Regions from separate parts of the Homo sapiens genome. Here all the other regions are reported to be linked to region 4. Evidence: microRNA targets listed by miRTarBase, many of them from high-throughput screens and not tested one by one. Region 4 holds a microRNA gene; each other region holds the end of a gene's coding sequence.

Region 1 (7,000 bases), not on the chromosome of region 4:
CCTTGCCCTTTTCTGTGCCCTCTGACCAGTGCCTGCCCCAAAGGATTCAAATGCTGTGGTGACAGCTGCTGCCAGGAGAACGAGCTCTTCCCTGGCCCCGTGAGGTGAGCCCAGGGCCAGCTCCTTTGGGTGCAGTCCTTGGAGGGGCCTGGTCCTGTGTGGACAAGGCCAGGCACCTGCCGAGGGGGCAGTGTGGGCGGCGGGAGCGGGGAGATGTAGGGAGTCCCCAGGGTGGCCTGGGGACTCAGGGTACTCTTGGTGGTCCCCACCCCAGGATCTTCGTCATCATCTTCCTGGTCATCCTGTCCGTCTTTTGCATCTGTGGCCTGGCTAAGTGCTTCTGTCGCAACTGCAGAGAGCCGGAGCCAGACAGCCCAGTGGATTGCCGGGGGCCCCTGGAACTGCCCTCCATCATCCCCCCAGAGAGGGTCAGAGTATCCCTTTCTGCGCCCCCACCCCCCTACAGTGAGGTGGGTGTCTCATCCCCATCCCCACCTTGCCTCTGGCCGGCTGTGCAGCAGAGACAGTGGAGGGCCCTTCGATCCTGGAGGGCACTCTGCACCCAGCATTGGGTCACCCCTCTCCCTGGTAACCATGCCTCAGCTGGGATGGGGGAGTGGTGGCCAGGGCCAGGGCCCAGAAGACTGAATTCTCTCTTTTCCCTGCAGGTGATTCTGAAGCCCAGCCTGGGCCCAACTCCCACAGAGCCACCCCCTCCCTACAGCTTCAGGCCTGAAGAATATACCGGGGATCAGAGGGGCATTGACAACCCGGCCTTCTGAGTCACCTCCTGCCTGGAATCTTGCCATCAGCAACCTCCTCCCCAGTGCCTCCTGGATCAAGCTAGAGACTGCTGGCACCCCAGGAATGTCCCTGCCCATCCTGCCGTGTCTCTGTTCATTCTTGGATTTAACTTATTACTTTTTCTGCTTCTGTTTCCACCCCAGCTGCCTCTCTTGTCCTGAGGGTTAGGCTGGAGTGACAGTTTCCGCCCACCCCCCAGCCCAAGAAAGAGGCTGCCGGAAAGAAAATGCTGACCATTGGAGGTGCCCAACAGTAGAATGGGCTACTGTGAGGGGTAGTAAGAGCCCCATTTCTGGAGGTATGCAAATCTTGACTGGACAGCCAGCTCTGAGATTTTATCAGGGCACTTCTATACCTGTGGGACATTGGACTGGATGAGCCCTGAGCCAGCTTCCACTCCTACCTGAATAGAGAACTCACTGCACCCACCCACAACACATGATAAACACATGTCCTCACTGAATGTTACTGATTGCGGCTGAGGGCCTGCCTCTGGCTGTGTGGGGAGGTGGGTGGAGAGGTGAGCCCAGGCACTGCTGAGGGGTGCGGTGATGGGGTCGCTGCGCCGCAATCCCACCACTGATGAGCCACCTGGGAGGTCTGGGAGGACAGTCCATCCATGGGCCGCCCTCGGAGAGAGGCTTGTTCTAGATGTATTGGCTGTCTGTTTTTTGATGTCTCTGTGTGCCAAACAGCCTGGAAATGGGGTACGCGTGTCCCTTGTGTGGGTTTCCCAATCCCTTCCGCCCAAGGCTTTCCTGGGACACATGGAGCCCAGCTCTCTGGCTGTCTTACCATGAGAAGTTGGTAAGTTGGCTGTGAGGGGGTTGGATCCAGGAAGCAGCCCTGGGACAGCCCATTCTGCTGTTGATAGCAGGAAACCACCTGCTGGGAGACAATGGGGGTGGGGAAAAGCCCAGGAGAGCAGTGGGTGGGGCTGGGCATCCGTGGAGTGGGGCTTTAGGAGACCTTGAACGGCCCCACCCTGGAATCTCCTACAGGAAGGTGAGGAGGTGGCAGGTTCCACCCTTCTCTACCAGCCCCGCTCGCTCGTGGGAGTTAACCCCCTAGGGGAGAAGAGTCTTCACTGGGGTTCGACCCATGGGGGCCTGGCATAGTCATGCAGAATGGGGCGGGACAATGCCAATGCCTTGGGACTCAGACAGGGCTGAGTGCCTCCACCCTGATTTTTGCCTCTGCACTGCGCCCCCACAGCCCACTCAATGCCAGCCTCCTTCTCCAGGCAGAGAGCCCCATGTCAATGCTGGCCAAAGCTCTCAGGAGGATTGGAGGTAGAACTGGCCCTGGTATGCCAACAGGGGTGCCTCTTTTAGTGCTCTCCCAATAATGCTCATCCTGGGGGCATCAGGACGCAGGCAGGTGGCAGAGCTGGGGGCAGCTTGATGGCACAGGCAGCCCCAAAGATGCCAGGAACAGGGACTGTCCGGGTGTGGGTTCCCAGTGAGATAGGGCCCTGGAAGGAGTGCAGCAGTTACTGACAATATAGTGCCAGGGTTGGCCATAGGAGAATGAGCCCAAGCGTAAGTGGAAGTTTCCCTTTACTTTCAGGGATTGGTCAGGGGTGGCAGAAAACATGTGGGTTCTTTGTGTAGATGTGGCTAGTTCCAATTAGAGAAGTCCTGCAGCTGATGTTGCCCTCACCGTGATAGCAGGAGGATGTTGAGAAATGGGCTTGGGAGACCTGGAGGAGAAGTTACCCTCGGCCCAGACGTTGCCTTCCTTTCATCACAGGGCCTTTAACTCCTCCTAGGGAGTAGCAGAGTGGCCCTAGGGAAAGTGGCCATCCTGAAACCTAGTGTTGCTGTGACCTGGTGACAGAAATGGAAACCTCTGTGGCTCTTCTGGTCATCCTTGGTGGGAGTGGGAATGGTGTCACCTTTCTAGAGGGCCATCTGGCACCATGTAATCACGCCACAGATCTTTACGAAGCTCCTGCTATGTAGGAAACACTATGCCTGGCACTGGGTATCCATTAAAATGTAAAATGCACGTGACCTGGCAATTCCACTTCTAGAAATGAGCCTTCAGAAGTGCTCATACAAAAGAGCTCAATAAGTATCATGCACTAATTCATTGTGCCACCAGAGCTCCCTATGCAGCCTTTTAAAAGAATAAATAGGATCTGTAGCACCAACCCTGCAAAGCATCCATCACTTATTGTTACAGAGAAAAGGCAAGTTGCGGAACTGCCTATGATCTCAGTTTGTAAGGATATAACCCACACATATTTTATTTTATATATGTATATTTTTTCTTTGCAAATATGTAGATAAGATCTAGAAGGATGTAAGTCAATCACTCACCACACTTCCAATAGTTGTTGGCCCCAAGAGTGGGATGTAGGTAGCAAATTGCAAGCGGGTCTTCTTCCTTTGTATGCTTTGGCACTGTGTGTTTTTTACAATCAGCAAGCATTGCTTTTGTAAATTTAGAGATTTGTTTACGGGAAACTGTAGGCAGCTTTAGAAGTTTATGAAGATTTGCCTTGTGAACTTTGATCAATGGCAACTGATAAATTATCAGCCCTGGTATGTGGAAGAGAATACAAGGACTTTAGACTGTGGTACCCACCTGACATGGATGTGACCCAGGGGACAGACACATGATGGGAAAGCCTGGATGCCTGCCAGACATACATGAAGCCCACATCTCAGACCTATGCAGGACTTATGAGGTGTATAATGAATGACAGAAACAGTGAGCTGGCTAGTTGGGTGAATGAGCAGTTTCACAGTGACGGAGAATTTCATCCCTCGTGGCTGGTTTAGTTGCTCAAACCCAATGAGTGAATAATGAAAGATGGAATGAATGAATGAAGATTAAATGGGTGCATGAATGAATGAATGAATGAATGAATGAAGAGATCTGCCACCAGATATTTGTAAAGAAACACAGTCTAGTTAACATCAAGGAGATGTTCCTCGTGGCTGTGCAGTTGAATTTCTATCTGCAGGGACTCCCCAGAGGACAGGGAAATGCAGGAAAGGCTGTAGGGTGGGGGGCATGTTGAAGCAGGAAGGCCTTAAGGCACTTGCTCCAGGGATGCAGGAGGGGAGGAGAAAGGGGCTGCTGCTGAGGGAAGTGAGGAGAGGGATAAACACCAGCAGGAATCTTACCTCACCTTCCAGCTGAGATGCAGGACTCCAGCTTCTGACATTTCGCCTTCTGCATCCAACATCTCCAGGCGTTGGTGTGCCCATCTGTACAGTGAAGAGCGTGGCCCCTTCTGGCTCTGGTAGGACGTAGCTCTGAATCCAAAGTTGGGAAGGGGCCCAACACGGTAGCTCATGCCTGTAATCCCAGCACTTTGAGAGGCTGAGGTGGGTAAATCACTTGAGGTCAGGAATTCGAGACCAGCCTGGCCAACATGGTGAAATCCTGTCTACTAAAAGCACAAAAATTAGCTGGGCGTGGTGGTGGGCACCTGTAATCCCAGCTACTTGGGAGGGTAAGGCACGAGAATCGCTTGAACCTGGGTGGCGGAGGTTGCAGTGAGCTGAGATCACGCCACTGTACTCCAGCCTGGGTGACAGAGCGAGACTCCGTCTCAAAACAAATAAACAAACAAACAAAAAACAAAGTTGGGAAGGGCCAAGTAAGAATATTCAGAGAAGCTCCTTAACACCAACAGGCTTTCCTCCACTCTACCTTGGCCACAGTCTCAAGTGGACATACCTTATCTTGTCAGCTCTGATCACCTCAAGCCTCCCACTCTGAACATCACCTCCTGTACTTCCAGCTCAGGTAGGTCCTATGTCACCACCACACCATGCCAGCAATTCTCTGAGCCCACCCAGCCCTCTGAACCAGCAGTCTTTGCCTGTTGGCAGCGCCATCACCATGTCCTTAAACCATCCTTACAGTCACTACCCTGCATCCTTTACCCCTTTTCCCCATTCACTGTGCTCACCCAGAGAAACTCCAAACTCCAAACTCCAGTTGGATCCAACTATGGCTCAAGAACCAGCACCCCTGTGTGACTAGACTCATTTCCAAATCAAAACCACACGTTTCGCGCAGGCCCTCGGTTCCTCCAATGTGCTTTCACAGCTTCACTTCCCCGCTCTTGAAATGACTCATTTCAAATCTCCCACACCCCCAACCTCAATTTCAGCTGGCAATGCCACCACACGCTTCAGAGAAAGAAAGGATGCACCCACACCAGCACACCTCACCTCCATGCCCCACACTTGCCACCCAGTATCCACGCGTGCCCCCTTCCCCCGCCAGAGCACAGTGGAAGCTGCATCGTGCTCCTCCAGCCTGCACTGGGCCCCAGCCCTCCTGCTCCTTAGGGCCTGGCCCTGCAGTTGTCTCTGCAGAGCCTTTCTCCCCTTCCCGGATCATTATCATCCGCTTATAACATGCCCACCCTTCCTCCTTTAGAAACTCTCCCTGGAGGCCCCCAGCCCTTCTGGCATCTGCTGTTCCACCTCCCCCCTCCCCACTTTCATTCTGTGCTGCTCCAAGCAGCCGTTTGTCCCCACCGTTACAGGAGATGACTCTAGTCCAGATCATCAGTGACCTACATGTCACCAAGGCCAAAGGTCCCTTCCCCTGCCTATCTCTCAGTGGCATTTGACACGCTTGGCCATGGCCTCCTTACCTGTTCTTCCAATGTCTCCGACTCCACCTTCCCCTGGTTTCCCTCCTCCACATGGCCTTCTCCTCAGGAGCCTTCACTTCCCCCTCCTCCTCCGCCCTCTCTCAGTGATGGCTGCCCCGGAGGTCTGTCTTGGGGTCTCCGGTCTTCATCTTTGTTCATTCCCATAGTGGCTGTCATCCTGATCTGCGGCTTCACAGACCATCTCTGGTCTGATGAATCTCAAGACTTAATCTCCCGCCGAGACTTCTCCCTGGGACTCAGATTCACATATTTAACTACCTCACGCCTCCTCTTGGATGCCTAATGAGCATCTCCCAGCCAAAAGCAGGCTCGAATTTCCCTCCACCACCCCCTCAAATCCAGTCCTTCCCAAGGTCTCCTATCATAAATAGATGTCGCTCCCCATTCGCCCAGCTGTGTAGGCTAAAACACTAAGAAATTATTGTGATTTCTTTTTCCCTCACTCCATCATCCTGACAGCGCTGCCTGCAAAATAGACCTAGGCCCACTTATTCCCATTTCACGGTTACAGCCCTCGACCAAGCCACCTTCATCCCTAGCCCAGCCTATCCTAATGAACTACCTGATTTCTGCCTCCAGGCTTGTCTCCATCTCACCCCCTGCAGTTTATCCCACACACTGCACTTAGGGAGATCTTTCTAAAGCGCAAACAAGACTTGTTATTCCCGTGCTTAAAATCCTCCAATGAGGCAGAGGTTGCAGTGAGCTGAGATCGTGCCACTGCACTCCAGCCTGGGTGACACAGCGAGACTCCGTCTCAAAAAAAAAATCCTCCAATGGGCTGGGCGCCATGTCTCACTCCTGTAATACCAGCACTTTGGGAGGCCAAGGTGGGAGGGAAGATCGATTGAGCCCAGGAGTTCGAGACCAGCCTGGGCAACATAGAGAGACCTCTGTCTCTACAAAAAAATACAAAAAGTATGTTTGTATTTTTTGGCTTCACTCATGGTGGTGTGAGTCTGTGGTCCCAGCTATCCGATGGCAGGGCGGGGTAGTGCGGAGGTGGGGCAGGGGGAGACTGAGGTGGGACGATTGCTTAAGAGATCAAGAGGTTGAAGCTGCAGTGAGCTGTGATCGCACCACTGTACTCCAGCCTGGGTGACAGAGCGAGACCCTATTCAAAAAAAAATTTTTTTTAAAGTTGCCCATTGGAATAAACTTCAAACCCCTGACCGTAGCTGGCAGGACTTAGGCAGTGTGTGGCCCCTCCCTTGCCCTCAAGCGTCTTCTCCTACTTCTCCTCCCTTCTCACTGCGTGGCAGCCACAGTTGCCTTCTCTCTGGGACTTGACTATCCCAAATCTTGGCCTGGCCCAGGGCCTTTGGTGGCTTTTCTGCTTGGAACTTCCCTCCCTCCCAATGCCCTCCTCCCAGTCTTCACAGGGCTGCTGTATTTTCACCATTCAGGTTCCCAGAGGGGTCAGCATATGCAAAGGCCTGAGGAGGGAAGGAGCTTGGGGGCTGGAGAAACTTAAACGAGACCCTTCCTTCCTTCAAAACCCCCTAAGATTCTGCAGGGTTCGGTGGCATGTACCTGTAGTCCCAGCTG
Region 2 (7,158 bases), not on the chromosome of region 4:
TAATCAGGTTGGTATCTCTTTTCTTGATAAAATAGATTCTTAAATTTTGATAGGTGATTTCCAAATTTAAGTTCAGAAGTAGTTTTAAAAAGTTGGGGAAAGCCCTTTATAGGCACAAGCAACTGATTTCCTTCTATCCTGTTAAATACAAAAGGAGAAAATCAGAACAAAGGGAAAATAAGGATCTAGGAAACAAATATAATCTAGGAATAAGATTACATTATAAAATAGAAGAAGAAAATAATTTGCTTGGGACTCCAAGAGTATACGTTCAGGGTCTGTCACAATACAAATAATTTCTATAAAAGTCTAGTAGGTATTATGAGATTTACCTTCATTCTTTCTGATTTAGATGACACTATCACCAATTTGTTGGGAAATGTTTTCCATTTGGGTAAGATTTATTTTTATTATTTAATCTGTGGTTTTCTGAGTAAAACCTCAGAAAGTTGTTTTTTTAAGAAACAGCAGGCTGACATACAGAAATGGAAAAGAAGGGAAAAATTACTATTAGTATTTGAACTTTTATTGCTTGAGACTTAATGCAATTATCTTTCTTGCCTACAGATTCCAGGCTTTCCTGATCGGAAAAGATTTGGGGCAGGAACATTAAAGAGCCTTCATTATGACTGAATTACACTCATCCTTTGGAAGAGTGAGCAAGCAGTGGCAGTTTTTCACAGCTCATCTTGCTGTGTTCAATTATTACCATCACAGCCTTTTAACAAAATCATCTTAAAATGCTACCCTTCAGCCTTACCCTTTAATGGAAAAATGAAAGGAAGTGACAATACGGGAGGTCCAAACTTTGTCCCTGTTCTCTGTGTTCCTTACCTTTCTGTCCCTGTGTATAGATTATGTAAAAGCCTTGTGTAAATATGAGATGTTGTCAAAATGATGCAGTAAATGAGCAATGACAGTGTACTGCAGAGAAAATTTACTCTTGCCTAGAACTGGAGGGTTTTTATGGGTCTGTAATTTTCCCACACTCATTGCTGAAAGCTTAATTAAGTACTTCAAAAACGTATCTCCATTGTTTTACCTTCTTGAGGGGAACGGTCTTGTTAACCAGCCCTGAGTTGTCTACCCCAAACAATCTCTGTCATTTTCAAAGATGCAAAATGGTGTTATTTAATTGTCTCCACCATTGTCACACACAGGAATGCCTAATAATAGCAACCCTTGTCTCCCTCTTCTCTCCTTTGCAAATGGCTCAGTGACTGGAAGAGGCGGACTAATAGCCAGAGTTAAATATAAATACAAATTAATAATACATAGAGAACAGCAATACCAGAAAAAAAGAATTCTGGTAAAATGATGTGAAAAATTGACAGCTCCCTCACTCTTAAGGTTGCTGCTATATACAGTCTAGGTTTTCTGTTTGGAAATAGGTAGGGTAAAATCTAAGACCTGCACAAGGGCAGTGAGAGACATTTACAGCCTCCTCTCTATTTGTTTTTTTAAGGAAAAGTCAACTCCTGAAATGTCCCTTAGCTATAATCAGAAAACTAAGAATATTATTCTGTGTCAACAATGTATTTATGGAGAGAAGTAAAAATAAGTTCCACAGCAACACATTTACATGAATTATGAACTAGGATTCTTGGATTTCATAATCACTCCAAAGCTTTTTGGGGATGGTGTGTGTGTGTGTGTGTGTCCGTAATTGTTCATCATTACTTTTTTTAACCTATCTTTTTGCTTGCTTAATCTTCTCTGCCCCAGTTCTTCCTGAGTATATGAATTTGATTTCTAAAAACAATTTATTCAACACTCTATCACCCGTATTCTCTCTCTGGCTCTGCTGCAGGTCTCTGCACTCCTGATTTTGCTCCATACTTTTAAATAACAATAATAAATATACAGTTTTCATTTCTCATTTAAAAAATAGGTGGAAAACACCAAATTCACTTTCTGTTCCATTTTAATTAGGTTTCAGAAGTATCTTGGAAATCAAGGTATGCTGCAAGAGGATATTAAAATAAGAATGTTAGAGAGTCCTTTTAGAAAGGCAGTCTTGGGAATTTGGAAAAGGATTTTTAAAGCAGCTTTCATCAGCTAGACTGTTCTCCAGCCTTTCTTTACTTCCTCTTTGAAAGGACATAGCCCTGGTTTCTTTTTGACACAAAGGAAAGCTATGCAAATCATGATCTGTATGTAGAATTGGTCACAAGTATGTTGTTGCATAGGCTGTACAGTTGGGAAGTAGAAACCAAATGCTACCCAGAGACCTAACCCAATTAAGCTCTTTGTATTTCTCCTTCAAGAAATAAATCTTCCTTCCTTCTTTCTTCCTCTTTCTTTTAATTTTAAAAAAATTCATCCTGATTTTTTTATTTTCTATCTTATTTAAAAAATAAAAATAGGCCAGGCGCGGTGGCTCACACCTTTAATCCCAACACTTTGGGAGGCGGGTCGATCACTTGATATCAGGAGTTTGAGACCAGCCTGGCCAACATAGGGAAACCCTGTCTCTACTAAAAATACAAAAATTAGCCAGGCCTGGTGGCACGCGCCTGTAATCCCAGCTACTTGGGAGGCTGAGGCAGGAGAATCACTTGAACCTGGGAGGTGGAGGTTGCAGTGAGTCAAGATCGTGTCACTGCACTCCAGCCTAGGTGACAGAGTGAGACTCCAACTAAAAGAAAATAAATAAATAAATATATAAATATATAAATAAATAATAAAAGTAAACTATTGCTGATGACTCCAGGGTCAATCTGGAAAAATTAACAGTATTCCTCAACTCCATTACTTTCTGCAGCCAAGCTTGATTCCTTGAATTATAGTTTTCTAAGAAAAAATAGTTTTTAATAATCTAAGGTAAATTTGTTGCAATTATTAGCAGCAGCATAATAAGGCTTTTTGCGCAAATGAATGTTATTAGCTAGAGTTATTCAAAAAAGAATGAAGCACAATTTTTGCTAGGACTTCTTGAGAACTATTCATAAAAATGCTTTTAGATAATAAACAAGTATAAATGTCAAAATATTTTTTTAAAAGTATAATTGGCCAGGTGCTGGCTCACGCCTATAATCCCAGCACTCTAGGAGACTGAGGCAGGAGGATCACTTGAGCTCGGGAGTTTGAGGCTGCAGTGATTCATGATTGCACCACTGCCTTCCAGCAGCCTGATGACAGAGTGGGACTCCATCTCTTTACATATGTATATCTTACTCTCTTGATGGGACAAGTTGGTAGAAATAAAGATTTTTTTTTTCTGTTGTGATTTCGGTGTCTGACCAATTTTCTGACTCATTGTGAAGGTGACCAGATATGAAGGCATATATATGACTACTCCTCTGTCCCTTAGGTGTATAAGACTTAGCTGGAATCCAACTAAAGATTTGGGCTGGTCTCTCCATCTTAACGTTGATGGGATTCAGGACACATAACCCCAAAATATTGCACCCTGTTATTTGAGAAAACTGCAGAAGCAAGGTTTCTCATACCTTCCCCTTACCCCTTCTCCCCTGAAGCAGGCCATAAACCCTAAGTGACTGTTCCCTGAAGTAGATCATAAAACCTTCATTCCATAGGTACCCTTTATCCTCACAGATACAGAGACACCAAGAAGAATCTGGACAAATAGGACTTGCTAAGTTCTCCACAGTTTATTACCATTAGATTATGTCCTTTTGTCCTCTGATTATACTTCTGCATAAGACTGTACATAAAAATACACAAGTTTTCCTATTTCTTTTTTGTCTTCATTTCTGAAGATTCCTGTCATGTAAAACTTACAGTAAATAAATGTGTGTGCTTTTCTCAATAATCTGTCTTTCGTTATAGGTGCCTCATTTGTGAACCTAGTGATGGGTGAAGAAAGAAAGCTCTTCTCCGCTACAGTGCTCTAAGAAAAGCTATTCCCAAAAGAGTTGATCCATATTAGCTTTAGCTCGGGTTCTTAGAATTCCTCAAACTTGAGGCATTCATGATATAATCCAGGTGCCCTGACACTTGTTTTTCTGTTCATTCTGACATGGACTTCATGGAAATGATGTGCAGGGACATCAGACTGAGGTGAAGAGCTCCTAATTGCTCCTTGTAATCAGAGTTTCTGAGTCCTCATTTCAATAGTTTGCAGTAGCACCCACCATAGGTAGGACCTTGTATGGGTTACTAGATGGTGGCTTAATTGAATTTTTTAAAGCACAGGTGACATCATATTTTAAGAAGTTTAAAGGTCTAACAGGGTGTCTGCATTGGTTTAATATATGTTAAAATTCAAAGGAGGAGTCTGTTTTGGGGAAAGGAGGAGAAGGAAATTAGAAATTCATTTCTCCGCAGTCCCAAGACTGAGCTAAATCACTGTGGTGGGAGAGGAAGGGTCGCAGGAAGTCTAACCCTGTGTCTCAAATATTTCACAACATGTTTGCCTACACAAAATATCTGATGTTAGGGTCAGCTGGGGCTGCTCCATAGCATAGTAAAGGAATTGGACATCCAGTTACAATTAATCTGCACCTCCATTAAGGACTCACATGGAGGGCTTTCAAACTCTGAAGTGTGTAAGAATCCCCTGAAGTGCTTGCTGAAAATGCAGATTCCACGATTTCCTCTCTCTTCCCTTACTCTCCCCTTTCTATATGTATAGGATAAGGCCAGGATTTTGTATTTTTAACAGACAAGCCAGATTTTTCTCATGCAGATAAGTCAGGATCTAGCCTTTAAGAAAGACAAATAAACTCATCAAAAAGTAGGGAATATAGATTGTGAACTCTGTACTTTATGAGTGCCATTATAGCAGAATTCATCAAAGCGCATCTTTGACTGCCTCAACCTGATCTCACCTTAATGAACTGATCCACTCCTCCCCACTCAAAGCTACATATGCCAAATTAAACATGAGATGATTGTCATGTCTTCTGTTGGCAAAACAAGTATTTGTCTTTCATGTATTGCTATCATTTTTATTACTGCCACTGTTTTTCCCCTGGGTTCTGTTTTTAATCCAAATATATTTATTTCTAACCAGTGCCTTGCCATCTTACACACAGCCCCCTCTCTAGTACTGTGTTTTCTCAGCTGGCTAATCACTAAGCTTTACCGAGGTCATCAATAACTAATGACAAAGAATGGAACCCCTAAACTCCAACCAAGGTGTAAAACCTCGCTCAGTACCATCAAGTATATCAGGTAATCTCTCCGTTCCATCTTTTTCTCGGAGACATCTGTCCTGGAGTCCTCTGATGCCTAACTCCGTTTTGGAGTGATTACTCTGTAGACCTGTCACACCCTGCTTCACATTACCTTGTAGCAATTCCTGGATGTAATGTTTTCCACTTTCTATCCAACTCTTACTCTATGGGACTTGGCTCAGACATAGTCTTCTCTGGGAAGCCCTCCCTGGCTCTGCTCGTCTGGGCTACGTGCCCACTAGTGCTTCCCCTAGATCCCTGGGCTCTTTCCTGTCAGAGCACTTACACTATGTTGTGATGGTTTTCAAAAATTGTTAAATAAATGAATGTATAATTACATTAATTAAAATGGAAAGCCATTAGACATAGAATCAGAACTTATCTGTAGCTGTGTAAGTTATTTATTCTCCAATCCCAGCAGGACATGATGGCTTATGCCTGTAATTCCAATACTTTGGGAGGCTGAGGCCAGAGGATGGCTTATGCCTGGGAGTTAAAGGCTGCAGTGAGCTGTGATGATGCCACTGCACTCCAGCTTGGATGACACAGCAAGACTCTGTCTCTAAAAAAAAACATTAAGTCAGGTGCAGGAGTTCACGTCTGTAATCCCAGCACTTTGGGAGGCTGAAGTGGGAGGATTGCTTGAGCCTAGGAGTTCAAGTTCAGCCTGGGCAACATGACGAGACCTCATCTCTACTAAAAAATTTTTAAAGTAGCCGGGTGTGGTGGTGTGTGCCTGTAGTCCCAGCTACTCAGGAGGCTGAGATGGGAGGATCGCTTTAGCCCAGGAGGTTGAGGCTTCAGTGAGCCATTTTTGTGCCACTGCACTCCAGCCTGGATGACAGAGAACCTGTCTCAAAAAAAAAATTAAATAATAAAATAATATTTTAATATCCCCTGTGTGTATTCTCTCCTTTTAGAAGGAATCCCTAAAGTTTAGTGAAAGATGTATTCAACTTTAAATATTTTCAAGCCCCTCAAAGTAATTTTAATCCAGTCAAGGAACTGTTAACACTTTCTTACCCCTTCAGAAGTCTCTCATACCTTAGGAAAGAACTGAAACACTTCTTAAATCTGCCTTCACAACTGGTTCAATGGAAGTAACATAGAAAGTTTGTTGAAAAATAAGGCAGTAAAGATTTCCCTTTGTCTTTTATTAGCTCCCATTTGTTTATCTAATGACCAACTGCTAACTTCCAAGATCAATAGAGATTGAAGGCCCAAGGTACTCATAAACTTAGATACACAGGAGATATTTTCTTCGAATTCAGTTTCAGAGTCTGCATGTTATAGGAATAGTGAAAACTTAGCCTCAATAAAGCTAGGGCCTCCACCTACCTTCCTCCTAGGTTTGCATATGAATTCCAGAATAGTTTATATAATGCCACAATGCCATCTGTCTATGCTGACATATGCTGAGGTTTCCTATCAGCTGCCCGGTCCGTAGGCATCAGTCCACATGGTTTGCTACCAGCATGTTTCCTATCAACATGTCCCCTTTGGTCTGGCCCAGTCTGTGCTAGCACCTCATACACAGGCAATAATTCTGCTGCTACTGCAGTATGCTGGAGCCTGGGGACCCTTGGAGGTTGTTTAAGCCCATTTATCTAAAGCAGAGGGTCTCAAACTAGCAGCCTGTGGCCACTTCAAATATGCACATGTTTTTCAACCTGCATGATTATATCAGTTATTTATCACTGCTTAACAAACCACCCCAAAATTTAGTAGTGTGAAATACACCATTCTATTTGTTCCCAATTCTGTGGCTCAGCAGTTCGGGCCAGATTTAACTGGTGGTTCTTCTGCTGGTCTTGCCTGGGATCACACATGTTCTGCAGTCACCTGGCAGCCAGACTGCCTCATTCACATGTCTGGCAGTTCCTGTGGGGCTTGCAGGGCTGTTGCCTGGACCTCTGGAGGCCAGCCCAGCTTCTCTGCACTGTGGTCTCAGGCTGCAAGAATGGGCCCTGTCCTAAGGCACAGGCATGTTTCAAACTCTGTGTCATGTTTGCTACTA
Region 3 (7,158 bases), not on the chromosome of region 4:
TATACCACTGTGAAACCCTCAAGGGCATCAGAGAATATAAAAGCAAAGAGCCCTATCCAAAGAACAGCAACTTCAAAGATTAAAGGAACATCAGCCCACACAGATGAGGAAGAACCAGTGAAAGAAATCTGACACATCCAAAAGCCAGAGTATTTTACCTTCAAGTGACCACACTATCTCCCCAGCAATGTTCTTAATGAGTCTGAAATGACTGAAATGATAGACATAGAATTCAGAATCTGGATGGCAACAAAGATCACGGAGATTCAGGAGAAACTCGAAACCCAGTCCAAGGAATGTAGGAAATCCAATAAAATGATTCAAGATCTGAAAGATAAAATAATCATTTTAAGAGAGAATCAAACTGATCTGTTAGAGCTGAAAAACTGCAAAAATTTCATAATACAAGCGGAAGTATTAACATCAGAATAGATTAAGCTGAGAAAAGAATCTCAGAGCTCAAAGACCAGTTCTCTGAATCAACCCAATCAGACAAAAATTTTTAAAAAAAGAATTAAAAAAAATGACAAAACCCTCCAACAAATATGGGATTATATAAAGAGACCAAACCTACGGCCCACTGGAATCCTGGAAAAAGAGAGACGCAGCAACTTATAAAACATATTTGAGGATATCATCCACAAAAATTTCCCCAACCTTGCTAGAGAGGTTGACATATAAATTCAGGAAATTCAGAGAACCCCAGGAAGATACTGTACAAGATTACCATCCCCCAGACACAGAGTCATTAGATTTTCTAAGGTTCACATGAAAGAAAAAATATTCAATGCAGCTAAAAGGAAGAGGCAGGTCATGTACAAAGGGAACCCCATCAGGCTAACAGAAGAGCTTTTAGCAGAAATCATATAAGCCAAAGACATTCGGGGCCTATATTCAGCATTCTTAAAGAAAACAAATTTCAGCCAAGATTTTCATACCCTGCCAAACTAAGCTTCATAAACGAAGGATAAATAAAATCCCTTTCAGACAAACAAAAACTGAAAAAAATTCATTACCACCGGACCTGACTTATAAGAGGTCCTTAAGTGAGTGCCAAACACAGAAGTGAAAGAATGTTACATGACACCACAGAAAGTGGTGTTAAGTGGTTAAGTGTATAACCCACTGACATTATGAAGCAACTATACAATCACGTCTACATAACAACCAGCTAACAACATAATGACAGGATCAAATTCTCACATCTCAATATTGACATATCAATAATGCTTTCGCTGGCTGTCCCTTTTGCATAGAGTCCAGCATGAGACGCAGAGGAGACTGGGATGCTTAATGTAGCCAGATGGGGCTGATGTAGCTCCTGAGTTAAAAATACATCTTTCTTTGGGACAGAAGGAACCACGTAATTTACTCTAGTCCAGTTTGGTCCTAGCATCCAGGAAAGTAAAGATGCAATGTACCAGAATACCCATATCAAAAAGTTAGAAAGATCCCAAATTAGCAACTTAACATTACACCTAGAGGAATTAGAAAAACAAGAGCAAGTCAACCCCAAAGCTAGCAGAATAAAACAAATAACCAAAATCAGAGCTGAAATGAATAAAATTGAGATACGAAAATTCCTACAAAAGATCAGTATACCCCAAAGTTGGTTCTTTGAAAGAACAAATAAGATTGATAGATCACTAGCTAGTCTAATAAAAAAGAGGGAACCAAAAGCTTTCATCATTTAAGAGTTTTTAATTTCTCTTTCATGAAAGGTAAATTTACATACAGTAAAATACATAGATTTTATTTGCGTGATTCAATGTGTTTTGATTCATAACCACATAATTACTATCCCAGTTAAGACATAGACTATTCCTAGGACTGGCTGGGCGCAGTGGCTCACGCCTGTAATCCCAGCACTTTGGGATGCAGAGGTGGTTGGATCACAGGGTCAAGAGATCAAGACCATCCTGGCCAACATGGTGGTCTTGGCCAACATGGTGGTCATCTCTATTAAAAATACAAAAATTAGCTGGGCATGGTGGCCCGTGCCTGTAATCCCAGCTACTCAGGAGGCTGAGGCAGGAGAATCGCTTGAACCCTGGAGGCGGAGGTTGCAGTGAGCCACTGCACTCCAGCCCGGCAACAGAGCTAGACTCCTTCTCAAAAAAAAAAAAAAAAAAAAAAAAAAAGAAAAGAAAGAAATAAAATTCCCAGGACCCCAGAAAGTTCCCCTGTGTGCCATTCACGTTAATCCCCAAATCCCACTCCCAACCTGAGGCAGTCACTGTTATGAATTTCTGTCTTTGTAGATTAGTTTGGCCTGTTCTTGAACTTCATATAAGTGAAACTACAGAGCATGTATTCTTTTGCATCTGGCTTCTTTGACTCAAGATGTTTTCAAAATTTATTCAAGCTATTGCATGTATTATATATTGTTATTATATATTGATGAGTATTATGCCGTTACATGGAAACATGTAATCAATTTTAAATATTAATTACTTAGATTTTTATATTATTTTCTCACTAAATGTAGGACATTTCAAGTGCTCAGTAGCCACATGTGGCTAGTGGTTACCATATCAAACAGCACAGTTGTACAAACATTATAGTCTCCGCTTTTACTTTTAGGTTTATGATTCGCTTCAGGCTAATTTTTTGCGTGTGATGTGAGAAACAGCTCAACACTCGTTTTTACCAACCCTAATTTCACTTGTTCCGCTAACATTTATTTTTTATTTATTTATTTATTTTCAAGATGGGGTCTCACTCTGTCGCCAGGCTGGAGTACAGTGGCACAATCTTGGCTCACTGCAACCTCTGCCTCCTGGGTTCAAGCAATTCTGCTTCAGCCTCCCTAGTACCTGGGATTACAGTTGCCTGCCACCACACCCAGCTAATTTTTTTTTTTTTTTTTTGTATTTTTGGTAGAGATGGTGTTTCACCATGTTATCCAGGCTGGTCTTGAACTCCTGACCTCAAGTGATCCACCCACCTCAGCCTCCCAAAGTGCTGGGATTACAGGTGTGAGCCACCGCGCCCGACCACCTACCAACATTTATTAAAAGTCTTTCCTGTCCCAATTGAATAGACTTGATGCTATTCAGTTGACTGTATATGTGTGGGTCCATTTGTAGACTGTACTCTAGTCCACACCACACTCTCTGTATTACTCTAGTGTTAAAGTCTGCCTTCTCTAAATGTGTTTCTTATCACAATGATTTGGTTATTCTAGGTTTTTATGTGTTTATATAAATTTCAGAACCAACTTATCAATTTATAACTATATATGTATATATATAAACTTATATTTACAATATACATACATATACACTCATCTATACTTATGTACATACATATACACATATACATATATTTTATATATATATAGGAATTTTGACAGGGATTACCTAAATCAATATGCAGACAACTGACATTTTAACCATTTTTGCCTTCTAATCCATGAACGTGATATATTTCTTCCTTCATTTGGGCCTTCCTTAAGTCTCTCAAAAATGTTCTATATTCATCAGTACAGAAGCATTCCGTGTTATCTTAGTTCATTTGTGTTGCTATAGAGTAATATCTGAGGCTGGGTAATTTATAAAGAAAAGAGGTTTATACAGCTTGTAGCTGCAGTGAACGCCAAGAATGAAGCACTCAGACAATTCCAGCTGAGCGGGATGCGGCGGCAGCAGCATCTCTGAAAGAGTGCCGCCCCAGAATCCGTCCGCCAAGTGTTTCTCGAAAGGGTTTGTTAAACCAAAATGTCCACCAGATGGCCTTTTGCGGTCGGGTCATGAGACACATATGGCCTGGTAAAAACACTCAGACTACAGTCTCAGGAGGCTGCTTTCCGCGCTCCTTATCACACATTCCGTTCCTTGCCCTGTTTTCAGGGTCAAGGAGTTTCAATCTCATGCACAAACAACACGCACACGGTGCCTCAGTATTTTTCCATGCCTCGACCTCAAATGCCTTGTACATAAGCTTGAATATGTTGCCGTGCACCCCCCACAGTTTATTTGGCTCACAGTTCTGCACCACATAGAAAATGCTTGGCACCAGCCTTTGCTTCTGGTGAGGGTCTCAGGAAGCTTCCACTCATGGTGGAAGGCAAAAGGAAGTCTGCATGTGCAGACAATACGGCAAGAGAGGAAGCACGGGCTGGGGAGGGGAGGTGCCAATGTCTTTTTAACACCCAGCTCTTGGAGAAACTCTCACAGGAAGTAACAGAGTGAGAACTCTCTCATTACCTTGAAGACAGCACCAAGCCATTCATGAGGGATCCAATCCCGGGACCTGAACACCTCCCATTTGGCCCCACCGCCAACACTGGGCATCAAATATCAACAGGAGGCTTGGCAGGGCCAAACAAACCATATCCAAACCATAGCATAGGATTTTTTTTTTTTTTTTTTGACACAGACTCTTGCTCTGTCGCCCAGGCTAGAGTGCAATGGCACAATCTCAGCTCACTGCAACCTCCGCCTCCCGGGTTCAAGCAATTCTCCTGCCTCAGCCTCCCAAGTAGCAAGGACTACAGGCATACGCCACCTCGCCTGGCTAATTTTTGTATTTTTAGTAGACATGGGGTTTCACCATGTTGGCCAGGCTGGTCTTGAACCCCTGACCTGAAGTGATTTGCCCTCCTCAGCCTCCCAAAGTGTTGGGATGACAGGCGTGAGCCACCACGCCCAGCTCGGATATGATTTTTTACTTATTTATTTATTTATTTATTTATTTTTTTTGAGACGGAGTCTCGCTCTGTCTCCCAGGCTGGAGTGCAGTGGCACGATCTCAGCTCACTGCAAGCTCCACCACCCGGGTTCACGCCATTCTCCTGCCTCAGCCTCCCGAGTAGCTGGGACTACAGGCACCCGCCACCACGCCCGGCTAATTTTTGTATTTTTAGTAGAGACAGGGTTTCACCATGTTAGCCAGGATGGTCTCGATCTCCTGACCTCGTGATCTGCCCACCTCGGCCTCCCAAAGTGCTGGAATTACAGGCGTGAGACACTGTGCCCGGCCATGATTTTTAAAAAATTGTTCCTTGGTACTTTACGGTTTTTTGATGCTGCCGTAAATGGGCAAGAGTCTAGATTTAGGGAAGTTTTAGTGCTTCCTCCAGTCCTTTGATTTCTTCCTATCAGGGCTACTGCATAAAGTGATTGTTGTGAGATGTCCCTTTCCTCGTTCGGGTGCTGCATGTAGGTAAATTTTTTTGGATCATGTTGTTTAATTTGCCAGATGATCCTGTGCCCCTTTGGAAACGTTTCTCATTCCCTGGGTTTGGCTTTAGAGGAGGGAGATCATGAGCTGCTGCTTCACTCTCTCCCTCAGCTCAACCCAGAAGTCCAATCCTTGAACTCCATTTTCAAAGACAGAGACAGAAGAAGGCCCAGGAGGAGGGCGTTCTAGGAGGAGGGTCCCCAGTGTGCAAGGACTGAGGTATGAACCAACAGGGCATGTTGCAAATGATTTGGAAAAGACCAGAGGGACCAGTGGGTTAAGTGGTGAAGATGGAGGAGTGGACTGAAGTGGGAGAGTGATGTCACGAAGAGGATGTGATGGGAGGTTCAGGATCCAGGAGCCATGGATGGGCTGTGAGCAGTGCGGAGAGAGCTCAGTGTGTCCTAAAGATTCCCACTGGACTGTGCACAATACGTAGACTGCAGAGAGTAAGGCGGCCTAGCAGTCACAGGGTGGGCAGATGAGGCTGAAGAGGTGGGCAGGATCCAGATGCTACCTAGACCTGATTTGCAGGCTGAGGTTATTTCCTGGAAAGTTGCAGAATCGCTATTTTGCAGGCAAGTGACACAGACATATAAGTACTAGTTGCCACCAGAATCAGGAGAGGTTCCCAGCAGGACCTTTGTGTTCAAAGCACAGCGATCCATCAGTGCTCGGCATACACCTGTGCCAGGAGCTCTAACGGGATGTGACTCCTGGAATGGTGACCACAACCTTGCAAGTAGGGCTTCTCATTCCTGTTTTACAGAGCAGGAAACCAAGGTACAGAGAGGTAGGAATTTGTCTGTCTTTTAGTTAAAAAAATAAAAGGGAGGGCACAGTGTGGATTCAGGTTTGAGATACTTTGACTCTAAAGCCTGTGTGCTTTTCACTCTGCACATAATTCATAGTGTTATCATAGCTCATCACGTTGAGGGCTGTTAATTCTACAAGAATCAGCCTCTGACTTCTCCCTTGCCTGGAGGGGCTGTGATCCCTCAATCAGGGTGAGTCTCTGCAGTTTCTCATCTGTGGATCTTGATCTCCGAGTACTCGGTGTCAGTGGCCTCCTGTCCCCGCGAGTCCCAAGGCTTCACCATCTGGAAGCTGAGGGATGCATACTGGAGCTCTCCTTCCCCCACTGAGGAGCGGGCAGAAGCTGGGGGAGGCTGGTCTGGGGGACTGTCTTCTGCCCAAGGTTCAGTCAGGGGCCCCTGAGACATGGGAGAGAGAAGTGAGTCAGAGCAGACAGTGAGGATGGGGCGCGGTGGCTCACATCTGTAATCCCAGCTCTTCAGGAGGCTGAGGTAGGCGGATCACCTGAGGTCAGGAGTTTGAGACCAGCCTGGCCAACATGGTGAAACCCTGTCTCTACTAAAAATACAAAATTAGCCAGGTGTGGTGGTGTGCACCTTTAATCCCAGCTACTCAGGAGGCTGAGGCAGGAGAATCGCTTGAACCTAGGAGGCAGAGGTTGCAGTAAGCCAAGATTGTGCCACTGCACTACATCCTGGGTGACAGAGCGAGACTCCATCTCAAAAAACAAAAACAAACAAACGAAAAAATGCACTTGAGGCAACAGCCTCACTCACTTCACCCTTGTTCTTGCCCTAGTGGAGAGGTAGGTGCTTAAAAGGTCAGAATGTGGCCGGTCACAGTGGCTCACGCCTGTAATCCCAGCACTTCGGGAAGCCAAGGTGGGCAGATCACAAGGTCAGGAGACTGAGACCATCCTGGCTAACACAGTGAAACCCCGTCTCTACTAAAAATACAAAAAAATTAGCTGGGCGTGGTGGCAGGCGCCTGTAGTCCCAGCTACTCCGGAGGCTGAGGCAGGAGAATGGCTTGAACCCGGAAGGTGGAAGTTGCAGTGAGCAGAGATCGCACCACTGCACTCCAGCCTGGGCGACAGAGCAAGACTCTGTCTCAAAAACAACAACAACAAAAAAAAAAAAAAACAAAAAAAGTCAGAAT
Region 4 (7,158 bases):
AAAGTGGGTGGGAGCGTGTGAGCAGGCACTAAGCCTCCCATTGTGGCTGTTATCCAGCAGCACTGTGACTCGGACCCCGCATGTGAGCTCTGCCTTTTGGTCACTGCCGCCGCCAGCAGCCCAGGCTGACTGGTTTGACAGTGGCCATTGTGCATGTGCTTAGCTGGGGCTTTAAGCTGAGAGTTGCCTGGAAGTGTCACTTTGGAGACTAGTCACAGCTTGTAGAGTTTGGGGAGATTGAGATCCTCTCCATTTATTTTAGAGTTTGGAGTTCCAGCTTTTGAACCTGCCGTTTGAACTAATTTTCGATGGTGAATTCGTTGTCTATAAACAGCCCTCACCAACTCAGTGCTCCTTGGAGGCTCAGTTTTCGGACTTCTGTTTTTCTTTTCTTTTTTTTTTTTTTTTTTTTAATCAATTTGGGCACTTTTTTTGGTGTATCCAGAGTAATGTACATGAACGTATCCCTCATATTATCTATATATTTCTAAGCAGCCCCCGAAAAAGGCTTTGGGGCGTTCAGCTGTGTTGTCTCCTACGTTTTCTGCGCACTTTCTTTAACAACCCTCTAATGATGAACTCTCAGTGAGCCTCTGTTAGGAACGCTGAAATCTCAGCAAGCCTACGTTAGGAACGCTGATCAGAACCAGAATCCGTGTTTTCAGAGAATGAAATCATTGTTGGGGGAGGGCATGGGAGTTGCCCATCATTCATTCATCCATTTCTTCAGTAAATGCCTGCGCAGGTGCTCTGTGCCTGGTGCTTGCGAGAAGATATCAGTGAGGCACACAGGCGCTGTTCCCCAGGAGCTCACGCCCCGCATAGGGTGGCACCCTCTTTGGAAGTCCCTCAAGCTGCCTGAAGATTGTAGCCCAGTTGGCGAAGTTACTTGAGTCTGTCTGACATCTGAGCTATCAACATGCTGGGCTTCACTATAGAGAATTTTCTCTTTTTAAAAACAGGAGAAATATCTCGGTGTCATGGCTCTGTCTTTGGAAGGCTTCAGAACAGGTGTCTTCACGCCTGTTGCTGTGCATGAGTGCATTTGGCTTTGAGTCTCTGGCTGTCAGATGCTAACGTGCCTGGTTTCTCTTCCAGCTTTGCGATCGTCATCTGGGGCGTGCTCACACAGAAGAAGCCGTTTGCAGGTGAGTGGACCTGTCTTTGAGGTGTAATGTGCTTGTCTTTCCTGGAATAATGGGGGGACACCTTGTTGTCCTTTCTCTATCCTAAAACAGAGCCTGTGATCCACGCTGCCATAGGTGCTGCTCTGTGGTGTAATTTGCATGCAGGAAAAGACACAGATCTGAAGGGGCCTGTTCAATGGAATGTTTTTAGGTGCCAGCTAGTTTTTTTGTGGTAGTAAAATATATATAACATAAAATTGGTCATGTTAGCCATTTAAAGTGTATAATTCAGTGACATTAACTACACTGGCAGTGTTGAACAAGCGTTACCACTGTCTAATTCCAGAACATTCTCATCATGCTAGAAGGCAAAGCCCATGGCCATTCTGCAGTCCCTCGCCCTTCCTCCTGCTCAAGCCCCAGCAACCACTCACCTGCTTTCTGTCTCCAGGGGTTTGCCTGTGCTGGTATTTCCAGCTAATTCTTTTTTGTTTACTTTTTAAAAAAATAGTCATAAAATACACAGAACAAAACTTAGCATGTCAGCCGTGTGAAGCATACAGTTCAGGAGCATTACATGTACCCGCGTGCTTGCGCAGCCAACCTCCAGAGCTGCTCAGTGCCATGGAGTTGCTTGCAGGAGTGGCACCCCTGCCCAGCTTGAGAGCTGTGGTGTTTGCTTCCCCAGCCAGGCAGCCACCATTCCGAACACCATCCTCAAAGTTGTCACACCTTGACTTACTTATCATAAAAATCCAGGACTTTTTAGCTTTGTTGGACAGATTCCCTTTTCCTCTAAAGACATTTCTGGGCTACTCATGATATTTTGTGGTGTGACCGAAAATGTCTAAAAATGAAGATGAGAGTCAAGGCCTAGCCCCTTGTTAGTCGGGGCTCAGACTAGGAGCCGATGTATGGGAAAGTGCTGGGGTGAGAAGAGATCTTCCAGCATCGCAAGATCAAGTATCTTGGCAGCTTTAAAAGAATGTCAGTAGAAAGCACAGAACGCGTCCTGCCAGGCCTCTGCTGGCCGGTGTCCGTCTGTGTTGTCTGACCGCCTGTCGCCTTTCTTGCCTTCTGTACGTTCTCCCGCACAGTGGCCTACAGCCCGAAGGCTTGTGAAATGAGGCAGTGTCTGATAGATGTGACACCCGAAGCTAGGCGCAGGGGACAGGTCAAGGCTCAAGCCCTTGTGCTTTATTGCTGAATATGCCTAGTGTTCCCTTATTGGAACGCTAATCATATGGGAATTATTCGTGTCCTACTGTTCAAGGTCATCGCCAAGGTCTGATTTTTCAAATTCAAAAAATTGCAACCTCAGGCAAAAATGGGTAGGAGGGGGTTCAAGGTGCAGGAGAACAAGGCCTCTCCCCAGCTTTTCCAGTCTGTGCTTGGCAGCAGGAAACATTCCGGGCGTTTACTTCAGTTTGCTTCCATTTTATTTAGAGGAGCTGTTGGTTTTGAAGTCTGAATAATCATGGAAATAGCCTGCTAAACACTTAACGATATTTATTGCACAAGATTTAATGGGAAAGTGGAGCAAAACATTGTATGGAATCCTGGCAGCCGTGGGTGATTCTCGGCTGATTTTCCACACCTGCTGAGGCACATGGCCTCTCCAAAGAGCTGCCATTCCATGCGTGGGTGTGTTTGGATCTGGAGGGCAGAGAGGGCTGTTGGGAACAAGAACCTTGAGGGTTCCAGGCTAAGCAGAAAAAAGAACTTGGCCCACTGGATGTCACCCTGGGCCCTTCCCAGTCAGGGTAGAAGTTGTGGCAATAATAATAATAAGCTAGAGCCCATGCATGCTAGTGAAGGCAGTTGGAAAGGACAGGTGCGGCCCCACATGGTGAATTGAGGGGAAAGAGCCCTTCCACACATCCCAGCCCTGGTGCACCGGCAGGGGAGGCCAGCTGGGGACCTGAGCTTGGGATTGGAGTTGGAACTGAGGAAGACTTCTTCGCCATTGTAGAGAGAGTTGGGTCTCTGTGGATGTAGGACGCTGTGGCTCCTCCATGGTGCGTGAGCCTCATTCCCTTTGCTGGCTTGGGCTGTTGATGGAATGAGCCTCATAAGATATTGTTCTCCTTTGAACCTCATCTTCCTTTGGATGGGATGCCTAGAAAGATCTGCTCTGTGACCAAACACACTGACTCCTTCTGGTAGATCAGAACCCAGGGAAAGAGGTCGATTTCAAAACCAGGAAACTAGAGAGCATGGCGCACCATGAGGGTGAGGGTTACAGGAAGCTCTGCCTTTGAAACGGAGTGGGGGAGCCGTCTCCCTGGGGTGGTGTGGGGATGGCCCCATTGTGGCCCCCGGCGAGTGTGTCGTTTCCTCCCAAGGGTGAGATGCTGCCACCCAGCCCTGCAGAGCCCCTGACTCGCATCCTTCCCTTGGCAGATGAGAAGAACATCCTGCACATCATGGTGAAGGTGGTGAAGGGCCACCGCCCCGAGCTGCCGCCCGTGTGCAGAGCCCGGCCGCGCGCCTGCAGCCACCTGATACGCCTCATGCAGCGGTGCTGGCAGGGGGATCCGCGAGTTAGGCCCACCTTCCAAGGTGAGCACCCCGGGGTCTCCCCGCCACATTCTGTGGGTGTCACAGGAGACAGAGGTGACAGACAGGACAGGGTGAGGGACCAGGCCTGGGTGAGAAACAAGGCGTGTAACAGGTGGGCCGAAATGAGCCCTGCACAGATAGGTTGGACCCAGCACCTGCCTGCGGCCTCTGGTACTCACGGCTCGGCCACGGCAGCTGGAACTGAGTTGCCTCCAACCATCCGCCCCCTGCTCCCCACCAGGGTTGGGCTTGCCACCCAGAGGAGTCTGTATGGGAGCCTGAAGTTCAGGTGCAGCCATGCTCTTCCCGGGGACTTACCTGGCCGGTGGCCGGCGGCGTCGCCCTTCTCTTGAGGAGTTGACTTCCTGGGACAGATGTGTCTCTGGCATAGGAAAGTCACCCTGATGAGATGGAAACTGCTGCATTTAAAGCTTACGGCAGGAAACGGGCTGAATGGGGAGCTCATCCGCCAGGTGCTGGCAGCTCTGCTCCCTGTGACTGGCAGGTGGCGCTCCCCCGGGGAAGGCTTCCGCCTTGAGTCTGGTGAGGCCTTCAAATGATTACCGATGGGGGGGCCTGGGTTTGGCCAGCAAATTGTCCATGTAGGGCCCCTGGGCTTGCCTGGTGAGCTCAGGCTGGGCCGAGGCGTGTGAGAAATCCCCCAGCTCGTGGGGGCCCTGCGTTTATATGGAACGCGTGTGTACGCAGAAGTCATCATCCGAGTGACATGTCCCCTTTCTTCCCCACAAGAAATTACTTCTGAAACCGAGGACCTGTGTGAAAAGCCTGATGACGAAGTGAAAGAAACTGCTCATGATCTGGACGTGAAAAGCCCCCCGGAGCCCAGGAGCGAGGTAACGAGTCCTTCCCACAGGGGTCTTTTGTCTCCTCGGCTTCCAGGCAGGAGTTTCCAAACCACTCCTCTTTGCAGAGTCCCCCGCCGCCCGGACCACTCTCCCTCTCTTCTGAGCCCATCCCGCACCCAACTCCATTAGAAGTGTAGGTCCCATGGGGGCTCAGGTCCACCTGCCCGACTGCATCCCCGCCCCACCTCCTGTCTGATTCTGCGTGAGTGGCGGAAGGGCTTCCCTGACACTAAATAGCCACTCATTGGATGTGTGTGGACCACGGGGATCAGAAGGCCCAGCCCCGGCCGGGGAGGGAGAGCTGGTGTCTGAGTGTCTTTGCACCCCTGGCTCGGGGATCCAGTTCCTTTATAGCTGCCCATAAATGGTCTGCACTCTGATGAGTGCCACCCAGGTGATTTCAGATGTGATAAGAAGCTCCAAGTAGCAGGGCTGGCTAAATGCCTTTTCGGGTGATGAGGCTGGAGCAGACCTGTGAGGCCCAGCTGATAAGTGAGCTTTATAACGTGTTATCTGGTGTTGGGCGATTAATCCCAGGCTGTTGGTGTGAGCTCAGGAGATCAGGAAATATGTATATCAGGAATATGCGCCCACTGCCTCAACATAAAGTGCATGTGTGCCAGTGAGCCCGGGAGCAAAGGTGCCCGGGGGTTGCTAGTACAGAGGCAGACCTGGGCCCTGATAAGGGAAAGAAGGCAACCAACATGTAGGGGTGGCTCGGTACACCCAGCAACAGTGCGGGACCTCGAGCCGTCCCACAAAGGGTGGGGAGTTGGGGCAAACAGGTGTGCCTAAGGGAAGAAGCGTGAAATCCCGTCAGATTCCACTTACCCACCAGAAACCTGCTGCCCCTGCAGTCCATGAAGCGAGACTCTTTAAAAGGCCCCATCGGTGTATGTCGGATTGGATCACCCCTCGTCCCTGTAGCCGGGTCCTTCCCCTTTCCCTCGTCCCCACACAGCCCCCAGGCCAGCCCCACGTGGCTCCGCGGGGAGGTCGCAGTTGTGGCCACGTGTGGGGGTCCTGCCCAGTTCCTGTCTGTCCTCTCGTTTCCTGCCAACGCTGGCCTGTGCTGGGCAGCTGTGTCCCGCCATACATGCCTCACATTCTGCAGCTTGACACCGCCTGCCTTTTGTCTGGGTGACGCTCTGTGCAGTGTTACTGAGCAGATGGTATCCAGAGCTGCATGAGGCTGGATTTTGCACTTTTATGAAGGCTATCTTTCCTTAAGATGTCTCCGTGCTGGGTGGGGCCAGCGCAAGTCTTTGTAGCTCCAAGTCTTTGAGCTCCCTGGCGCTGTGCGGGTGCAGAGTCTGAGCATCCCAAGTGCTGTGCGGGTGCAGGGTCTGAGCTGCCCGGCACTGTGCGGGCGCGGGGTCTGAGCTCCGCGGCGCTGTGTGGACATGGCGTCTGAGCTCCCTAGTGCTGTGCCGATGCGGGGTCTGAGCTCGGTGACCAATAGGTTATCTGCATTGCTTCCAGGGTCCGTCCTTTCCTCCCCCATCTCCCTCCCGTGGCCCACCTTGCTCTTCTGTGTTTGTGTCATGGGCGGGCCATGCGGTCTATGGCAGGGTCTTCACCCACCCCCTCTTCTGCATCTTCGCAGGTGGTGCCTGCGAGGCTCAAGCGGGCCTCTGCCCCCACCTTCGATAACGACTACAGCCTCTCCGAGCTGCTCTCACAGCTGGACTCTGGAGTTTCCCAGGCTGTCGAGGGCCCCGAGGAGCTCAGCCGCAGCTCCTCTGAGTCCAAGCTGCCATCGTCCGGCAGTGGGAAGAGGCTCTCGGGGGTGTCCTCGGTGGACTCCGCCTTCTCTTCCAGAGGATCACTGTCGCTGTCCTTTGAGCGGGAACCTTCAACCAGCGGTGAGTGGGGACGCCTCTGTGTCCCGAGAGATGCTGGGCTTGGCGGGACAGTGGACTGGACTCAGTGAGAAGCTAAACGGAATCAAGGGGACAGTTTCTTGACCCAGCAAGAATTCTTCTTTGTGTTCTCTCTGTCTTAAGTAATTAATTTTGTGTGTTGGGCATTTGGCTCCGTCTTATGTCACTTAGCATGTGTGGGGAACAGGCCACATCACCAGTCTGTGCAGCAGTCTTGCCTGTGCCAGTGCCATGGGTGGAGGCTGACCTCAGGTCTACAGATTGGAAACCCCCTCCAGTGCAGTGAGCCTGGCGAGTAGCCGAGCCCCACTCCCTGGCGGGCCTCCTGTCTCGGGCGTGGCAGTCCCGCACCCTCTGCTCAGACGCTGCTGGGTACACACCCACGCCTTCGCATATGTGGGCTCCCCGTTCACGGTAGTCCAGGCCTAGTAATGTGTTGGTTATCCTTGGAGGTTTTACCACCAGGCCACCTTTGCAAACCACCTGATAGGGAGGAGCACTTCTCTTTTAGCTAATCTCATCTTTTTATGTTAATTTTGATGGCTTTTGTTTCTGGAAGGTGCTTTTTTTCCTATCCCTGCCCCAGGGTGCTGGACCTGGTGCTTGTTCTGGCCTCCTTTCTGCCGGCTGCAGGGGTAAGATGTGGTCCTGCCCTGTTCCTGAAGGGGCTGCAGCTCTGATGGAAAATACAGGGATTTACACTCAGGGCTACAGCCACGG

The links. Region 4 holds the annotated microRNA hsa-miR-6814-5p (UCCCAAGGGUGAGAUGCUGCCA, at 3,466-3,487, shown strand). A microRNA usually pairs through its seed, bases 2 to 8, with sites in the 3' UTR of a target mRNA and lowers its output. Matches are read on the target gene's strand: a 7mer-m8 pairs with bases 2 to 8, a 7mer-A1 pairs with bases 2 to 7 and ends in A, and an 8mer does both.
Region 1: the mRNA of TMEM92 is a reported target of hsa-miR-6814-5p. Seed matches in the 3' UTR shown: 8mer at 1,954-1,961 and 7mer-A1 at 2,497-2,503.
Region 2: the mRNA of RABL3 is a reported target of hsa-miR-6814-5p. Seed matches in the 3' UTR shown: 7mer-A1 at 2,017-2,023 and 7mer-A1 at 2,532-2,538.
Region 3: the mRNA of SIGLEC9 is a reported target of hsa-miR-6814-5p. The part of its 3' UTR that is shown has no 7-base or 8-base seed match.

What each region holds. Positions count from the first base shown.
Region 1 is chr17:50,278,527-50,285,526 of GRCh38, forward strand. TMEM92 (transmembrane protein 92) reads left to right here. Exons shown (of 5, transcript NM_153229.3): 3 at 30-104; 4 at 275-470; 5 at 669-2,959. The coding sequence ends at 782. It overlaps TMEM92-AS1 (TMEM92 antisense RNA 1), which reads right to left. Exons shown (of 4, transcript NR_125805.1): 2 at 5,432-5,681; 3 at 3,942-4,025; 4 at 3,053-3,350. Among named protein-coding and RNA genes, the nearest start is that of TMEM92-AS1, 5.8 kb to the right of the region's middle. RefSeq lists a silencer at 5,116-5,165.
Region 2 is chr3:120,683,298-120,690,455 of GRCh38, reverse strand. It overlaps RABL3 (RAB, member of RAS oncogene family like 3), which reads left to right. Exons shown (of 8, transcript NM_173825.5): 7 at 1-7; 8 at 568-5,518. The coding sequence ends at 633. Among named protein-coding and RNA genes, the nearest start is that of HGD, 4.6 kb to the right of the region's middle.
Region 3 is chr19:51,129,131-51,136,288 of GRCh38, reverse strand. SIGLEC9 (sialic acid binding Ig like lectin 9) reads right to left here. Exons shown (of 7, transcript NM_014441.3): 7 at 5,979-6,398. The coding sequence ends at 6,210. Among named protein-coding and RNA genes, the nearest start is that of SIGLEC9, 7.8 kb to the right of the region's middle.
Region 4 is chr21:41,743,144-41,750,301 of GRCh38, reverse strand. It overlaps MIR6814 (microRNA 6814), which reads left to right and starts at 3,461; the gene lies at 3,461-3,530. It overlaps RIPK4 (receptor interacting serine/threonine kinase 4), which reads left to right. Exons shown (of 8, transcript NM_020639.3): 4 at 1,099-1,148; 5 at 3,531-3,689; 6 at 4,440-4,543; 7 at 6,162-6,420.